2 linked regions of the Homo sapiens genome follow. The protein of the gene in region 2 purifies or fractionates together with the protein of the main gene of each other region. This does not show direct contact. Each region holds a gene or a part of one and is shown on either strand. Other genes may lie near its edges. The genes, in order: SERPINA1 and KLK4.

Evidence for each region.
Region 1: the proteins of KLK4 (region 2) and SERPINA1 purify together in Homo sapiens (affinity purification with mass spectrometry; one large-scale study listed by BioGRID and IntAct). This does not show direct contact.

The regions. Positions count from the first base shown.
Region 1 is NC_000014.9:94,378,603-94,382,102, forward strand, and holds part of SERPINA1 (alpha-1-antitrypsin precursor), read right to left. Parts: intron 2,540-3,500; coding exon 2,269-2,539; intron 1,010-2,268; coding exon 862-1,009; intron 39-861; coding exon 1-38.
Region 2 is NC_000019.10:50,905,602-50,908,664, forward strand, and holds the end of KLK4 (kallikrein-4 isoform 1 preproprotein), read right to left. Parts: coding exon 2,978-3,063; intron 2,895-2,977; coding exon 2,758-2,894; intron 1,486-2,757; coding exon 1,333-1,485; 3' UTR 750-1,332; downstream 1-749. UniProt on the Homo sapiens protein: Has a major role in enamel formation. Required during the maturation stage of tooth development for clearance of enamel proteins and normal structural patterning of the crystalline matrix.

The sequences.
Region 1 (3,500 bases), on a different chromosome or scaffold from region 2:
CCTTTCTCGTCGATGGTCAGCACAGCCTTATGCACGGCCTGGAGGGGAGAGAAGCAGAGACACGTTGTAAGGCTGATCCCAGGCCTCGAGCAAGGCTCACGTGGACACCTCCCAGGAAGCGCTCACTCCCCCTGGACGGCCCTGGCCCTGCACATCCTCTCCCTCCCTGTCACATAGGCCTTGCTCCTCCTCAAGGCTTTGGCTGATGGGGCTGGCTCCCCTCTGTCCATCTTCCTGACAAGCGCCTCTCCCCCTGCTCAGGTGCACCCACAACTCAGAACAGGGAAGAGCATCGTCACTCCACGTCTGCCTCCAGGGCTCTCTCCTTTCTAGTACACGGCTTGAAGCTCCTTGAGGACACGGACCCTGGCAGTGACCTTCACAGTGCCCAGACCCCAAGATAATGCAGCCATTCATGGAACTGCAGTTGTTCATTGGTCGCCTTTAGTTTTCCAAAATAAGTGTCATCTTTAGCTGAAATCATTCATTAATTCAGACACCAAATCTCACAGATCGAAGGAGTCAGAAATTCCTTTGAAACAACTTAGCCCAAACCTTTCTGTGTCAGTATGGATAAATCAAGGCCCAATGTCTAGAAGGTCTTGGGCAAAGTTGAAATTCAGGGTCAGTGACACAACCTCAAGGGAGGCCCCGAAAGTGCCAGCTGCACAGCAGTCCCCTGCCTGGCTTTGCTGTTTGACCACGTCCCGTGTCAGTGAATCACGGGCATCTTCAGGAGCTCAGCCTGGGTCTTCATTTGTTTCCCTCGGCCCCTTCCTCAGCCTCAGGACAGAGCTGCAGCCCCCACACATTCTTCCCTACAGATACCAGGGTGCAACAAGGTCGTCAGGGTGATCTCACCTTGGAGAGCTTCAGGGGTGCCTCCTCTGTGACCCCGGAGAGGTCAGCCCCATTGCTGAAGACCTTAGTGATGCCCAGTTGACCCAGGACGCTCTTCAGATCATAGGTTCCAGTAATGGACAGTTTGGGTAAATGTAAGCTGGCAGACCTGTCGTGCAGAAAAGAAATTCAAGGCATGGCACAGCATTCCTCTTGTTCTTCTGGGACCCACCACAGTGCAAGTGTTTTCTTTTCTGATTATTTCTGCCACTTACTCCTGTGTCCTCCACCCACACTAAGATGGGAACTCGGCTTTGGTTTGTTCTACTTTTAGCTCTTCTACATTGAGTCAAAGAATGTTAACATCGAATGAATCACAAAAGCTTGAAATGCCACCTCCTCTGATATTCTAGGTGTCCTGGAAGCCTGTCTCATCTTGCCCTGTAGTGTTGGGTCACCTGGCCCCCAGCCTGTAACATCCCCAGGGCCCTACACCCAGAGAAACACGGGGCTGGTGGCAGTGCCCAGTGACAACCGTTTAGTGGATAAGAGAAGAGTGACCACACCAGGCTGAGTGCTCCTCTCTGGTTTTCCATGGGGAGACAATGCCACCCTGAGCAGGGTCTGGTGTGAGCGGGCAGCTTGGCTCTGGGCTCTCTGATCCGTTACCCTCTCAGCCTCTTTGTTCTTTCTCAACCCCTGGAGCAGAGACCTCAGGAGGTGCTGGCATGGAACAGAGAAATTCCAGCCTCGATTCCTATTATGAACCCGACACCTTTTGTATTTTCATCTTGGTTTTACAGTGTACAAAACGAACTAGATCAGCAGGGCATGGGCATAATCACGAATGCACACACATACACTAATGTGTGGCTCATGTTTAAGTATCACTTACTACAGGACACCCAATCTAACAGCACCGATAAAGTGACAGAGAAACGCAAGCCTTCTGCGAACATGGCCTGGCTGTTCCAATTCCGAACCTTGCTTTTCTGGGCCTTGCCACACAGGCTCTTCCCCCGTCCCCCCAGGGACATTCTACCCTTGAACTCCACACTCCACTGCTGCCTTTGCCAGGAAGCCCATCTGTTCCTTTTTGGTTCTGCCAGAACGTGTGGTGGTGCTGCTGTCCCTGCCCTGGGCACTGGATATTGGGAAGGGACAGTGTCCACACTGGAGTGGGAAGTCCCCAGGGACGAGACCTTTACCTCCTCACCCCTGGGTACTGTCCTCCTCATGGAGCATGGATGGCGCTGCCTGAACTCAGTGGTGGCCTCATTCTGGAAGCCAAGTTTATACAGAGTAGCAGTGACCCAGGGATGTGGGGTTCACCCTCCTCAGCCCTCTGGCCAGTCCTGATGGGCCTCAGTCCCAACATGGCTAAGAGGTGTGGGCAGCTTCTTGGTCACCCTCAGGTTGGGGAATCACCTTCTGTCTTCATTTTCCAGGAACTTGGTGATGATATCGTGGGTGAGTTCATTTTCCAGGTGCTGTAGTTTCCCCTCATCAGGCAGGAAGAAGATGGCGGTGGCATTGCCCAGGTATTTCATCAGCAGCACCCAGCTGGACAGCTTCTTACAGTGCTGGATGTTAAACATGCCTAAACGCTTCATCATAGGCACCTTCACGGTGGTCACCTGGTCCACGTGGAAGTCCTCTTCCTCGGTGTCCTTGACTTCAAAGGGTCTCTCCCATTTGCCTGGAGAGAGGGGAAGGTGGGCATCACCAGGGGTGAGTGAAGGTTTGGAAGAGTGTAGCAGAATAAAGAAACCATGAGTCCCCTCCCTGAGAAGCCCTGAGCCCCCTTGACGACACACATCCCTCGAGGCTCAGCTTCATCATCTGTAAAAGGTGCTGAAACTGACCATCCAAGCTGCCGAAAAAGATTGTGTGGGGATAATTCAAAACTAGAGGAAGATGCAGAATTTCTACATCGTGGCGATGTCAGGCTAAGAGATGCCATCGTGGCTGTGCATTTTTATTGGAATCATATGTTTATTTGAGGGTGTCTTGGATATTACAAATAAAATGTTGGAGCATCAGGCATATTTGGTACCTTCTGTCTAAGGCTCCCTGCCCCTTGTTAATTGGCAGCTCAGTTATTCATCCAGGGCAAACATTCTGCTTACTATTCCTGAGAGCTTTCCTCATCCTCTAGATTGGCAGGGGAAATGCAGATGCCTGAGCAGCCTCCCCTCTGCCATACCAACAGAGCTTCACCATCGAGGCATGCAGAGTGGACAGGGGCCTCAGGGACCCCTGATCCCAGCTTTCTCATTGGACAGAAGGAGGAGACTGGGGCTGGAGAGGGACCTGGGCCCCCACTAAGGCCACAGCAGAGCCAGGACTTTAGCTGTGCTGACTGCAGCCTGGCTGCTCTCCACTGCCCTCCTTTGCCTCAAGAGCAAGGGAGCCTCAGAGTGGAGGAAGCAGCCCCTGGCCTTGCCTCCCACCTCCCCTCCCCTATGCTGTTTTCCTGGGACAGTGGGAGCTGGCTTAGAATGCCCTGGGGCCCCCAGGACCCTGGCATTTTAACCCCTCAGGGGCAGGAAGGCAGCCTGAGATACAGAAGAGTCCATCACCTGCTGTATGCCACACACCATCCCCACAGTCTTTGTCATTTGTTTAATCCTAAAAAAACCTGACAGCAAGAATGGTAT
Region 2 (3,063 bases):
CCGTCATGTGGATGTATGCCTGTCTTTCTAAGAATCTGCCAAGCTGTTTTCCAAAATGGTTGTAGCATTTTACCCCCTACCCCCAGCAATGTAGGAGAGTTACAGCTGCTGTAGATATAACCAAGACTTGATGCTGTTATTCTTTTCAATTTTAGCCATTCTGGTAGCTGTATGTCTTTTGAAATGATTCTATATTTTTCAGATACTGGGTGCAACATTCCATATATGACCATTAAATAGAGTATGTTAATCATACTGTTCAAATTATCTATATACTTATTCAGTCTCCCATCTCCTTGCCCCTCAGTTGCCCCATTGTGCCCCTCAAACTTCCCTCTTTCTACTCCTTGGTCTCTGTTGCTGTCACTCACAGTAGCCCTCGCCACAATTCTCCCCACTAGACTCTAGCTGCAGCAGCCAACTTCTGAGACACATGCAAATTAAAAATTCTTGAAATGCAGTTAAGAAGACAAAAATGAATATAGATCAACTAAAGCTGAATAGTTAAACTAAGCAAGAAAATCTCTACGGTTACCATTTGCTGACCTGACTTTTCAGAAACTGGACAACATCCATGGCACTGGTTTCTCTTAACTATCCAGGGAATGGCCCCTCCCTCTGAAACTCTGTGGCCCTCCTGGTCAAAGCTCGCATTTCCCAGATAGGGAAATGCGACCCATGGAGGGAAAGCCATTTGCTGGAATCTCTTGAATGGAAGGGGAAGCAAGGAGGACACTACAAACAGAACCTGCGCTTCTCTTAGACTTTATTTCTGGATCTAGGGGAAAGGGACAAAAAATGAAAAACCAACTGGTAAGGTTGGGTCAACGTGCCACAAGGGGGCACTGTGTACAGGGAGAGTCTAGGTGGCATTGGACCGCTGGGTCTGAGGGAGGAGGGGCTGGGACCTGGACCTCTGGGTCTGGGGAAGGAGGGGTTGGGGGCCTGGACCTCTGAGTCTGAGGGAGGAGGGGTTGGGGGCCTGGACCCCTGGGTCTGAGGGAGGAGGGGCTGGGGGGTCTGGACTCCTGGGTCTGAGGGAGGAGGGGCTGGACTCCTGGGTCTGAGGGAGGAGGGGCTGGGGGGTCTGGACTCCTGGGTCTGAGGGAGGAGGGGCTGGACTCCTGGGTCTGAGGGAGGAGGGGCTGGGGGGTCTGGACTCCTGGGTCTGAGGGAGGAGGGGCTGGGGATCTGTACCCTTGGTTTGAGGGAGGAGGGGCTGGGGGCCTGGACTCCTGGGCCTGAGGGAGGAGGGGCTGGGAACAGATATTCCTGAATTCCTTCCGCAGGATGTATTTGGGGGTCAATTTCATGGGTTCCCAGTCCCCAGAGTTAACTGGCCTGGACGGTTTTCTCTATCCACTCAGTGAATTTGCAGAGGTTGGTGTAGACACCTGGCACGCCAACTTGGCCACACGGGGCTTTTCCGAAAGACACAAGGCCCTGCAAGTACCCGTTGCAGATCAGGGGCCCCCCAGAGTCACCCTGTTGTGAAGAGAGGGAGAGTCAGAATTCAAAACACAGAGAGGTGGAAATGGATGTGGGCTCAGAAAGGAACTAAATGAGACTGAGAAACAAAGACAGAACCATCATCAATAACAACATAGCCCAGCAACATATCTGTTGGAAGTCCCATTCCAGATCCCTGACTTCATCTAATCCTGCTTCCCGATGTCCTATGTCCTGAATGCTGGCTGCTTCTCTTGGGCTTGTGGTCTGTCTGTTTCTGTTTGTCTGTCTCTCCTTTGTCTCCTTTGTGGCTTGTTTATCTGTCTCAGTGTCTCTGCATCTCTTTGTAAAGTCTTTTTTTTTTTTTTTTTTTTGAGACAGAGTCTTACTCTGTTGCCCCAGCTGGAGTATAGTGGTGTGATCTCAACTCACTTCAACCTCTGCCTCCCATATTCAAGCAATTCTTCTGCCTCAGCCTCCCAAGTAGCTGGGATTACAGGCGCCTGCCACCATATCCAGCTAACTTTTGTATTTTTAGTACAGACAGGATTTCACCATTTTGGCCAGGCTGGTCTTGAACTCCTTACCTCAAGTGATCTGCCTGCCTCGCCTCCCAAAGTGCTGGGATTACAGGCATGAGCCACCCTGCCCAGCCTCTTTGTAGAGTCTTGATTTTTCCTGTTTCTCTTCGTGTTTCACCTCTATGAATCTGTGTCACTGTTTCCCTCTGGGTACACAGTTGACCCTTGAACAACCCTGGTTTGAACTGCACAAGTCCACTTATACTTGGATTTTTTCAATAAACACATTAGAAAAATTTTAGGAGAGTTGCAACAATTTAAAAAAATTCACAGACGAACTGTGTAGCTTAGAAATATCAAAAAATTCCAACAAAGGTATATCATGAATGCATAAAACGTATGCATAAATCGACTATTTATGTTATTGGTAAGGCTCCCCGTCAACAGTAGGCTATTTCTAGTCAGGTTTTTGGGGAGTCAAAAGTTATAAGAGGATTTTCTGTTGGGTGGAGGTCACCGCCCTCAGGCCCCATGCTGTTGGAAGGTCAACTGCATTTCTATGTGTGTGTGTTTCTGCCTCCCCATGTCTGTTTCTGTTTCTCTCTTCCTTTGCTTCTCTTTATTCCTGTGTTTATTTCTCTGTTTCTCTCAGTTTCTCTCTCTAGTTGTCACTGTCTCCCTGTGTGTCTCTCCATCTCTGCATCTCGCCATGCGGCCCTGTGTGTCTCTGTCTCCCCCTTCTCCACCCTTCCCTGAGTCGCCTGCCCTCCCCTTTCCCCTCTCTCACGTTGCAGGAGTCCTTCTGGTCTTGCCCTCCGCCGGCGCAGAACATGCTGGGGTGGTACAGCGGGTCATAGAGCTTACTGCAGACCTCCTCAGACACCACCGACACGTTCACGCACTGCAGCACGGTAGGCATTCTGCCTGGGACGCAGAGCTCTGGGTCAGCCCCCGCGACTGGGCAGAGGACCTCCTTGAAGAGGGCAGACACACACCCGTGAGCTCACCGTTCGCCAGCAGACCCCAGCCAGAAACGAGGCAAGAGTTCCCCGCGGTAGGGCACTGCGAAGCAATGCTGATGCTCCGGATGGTG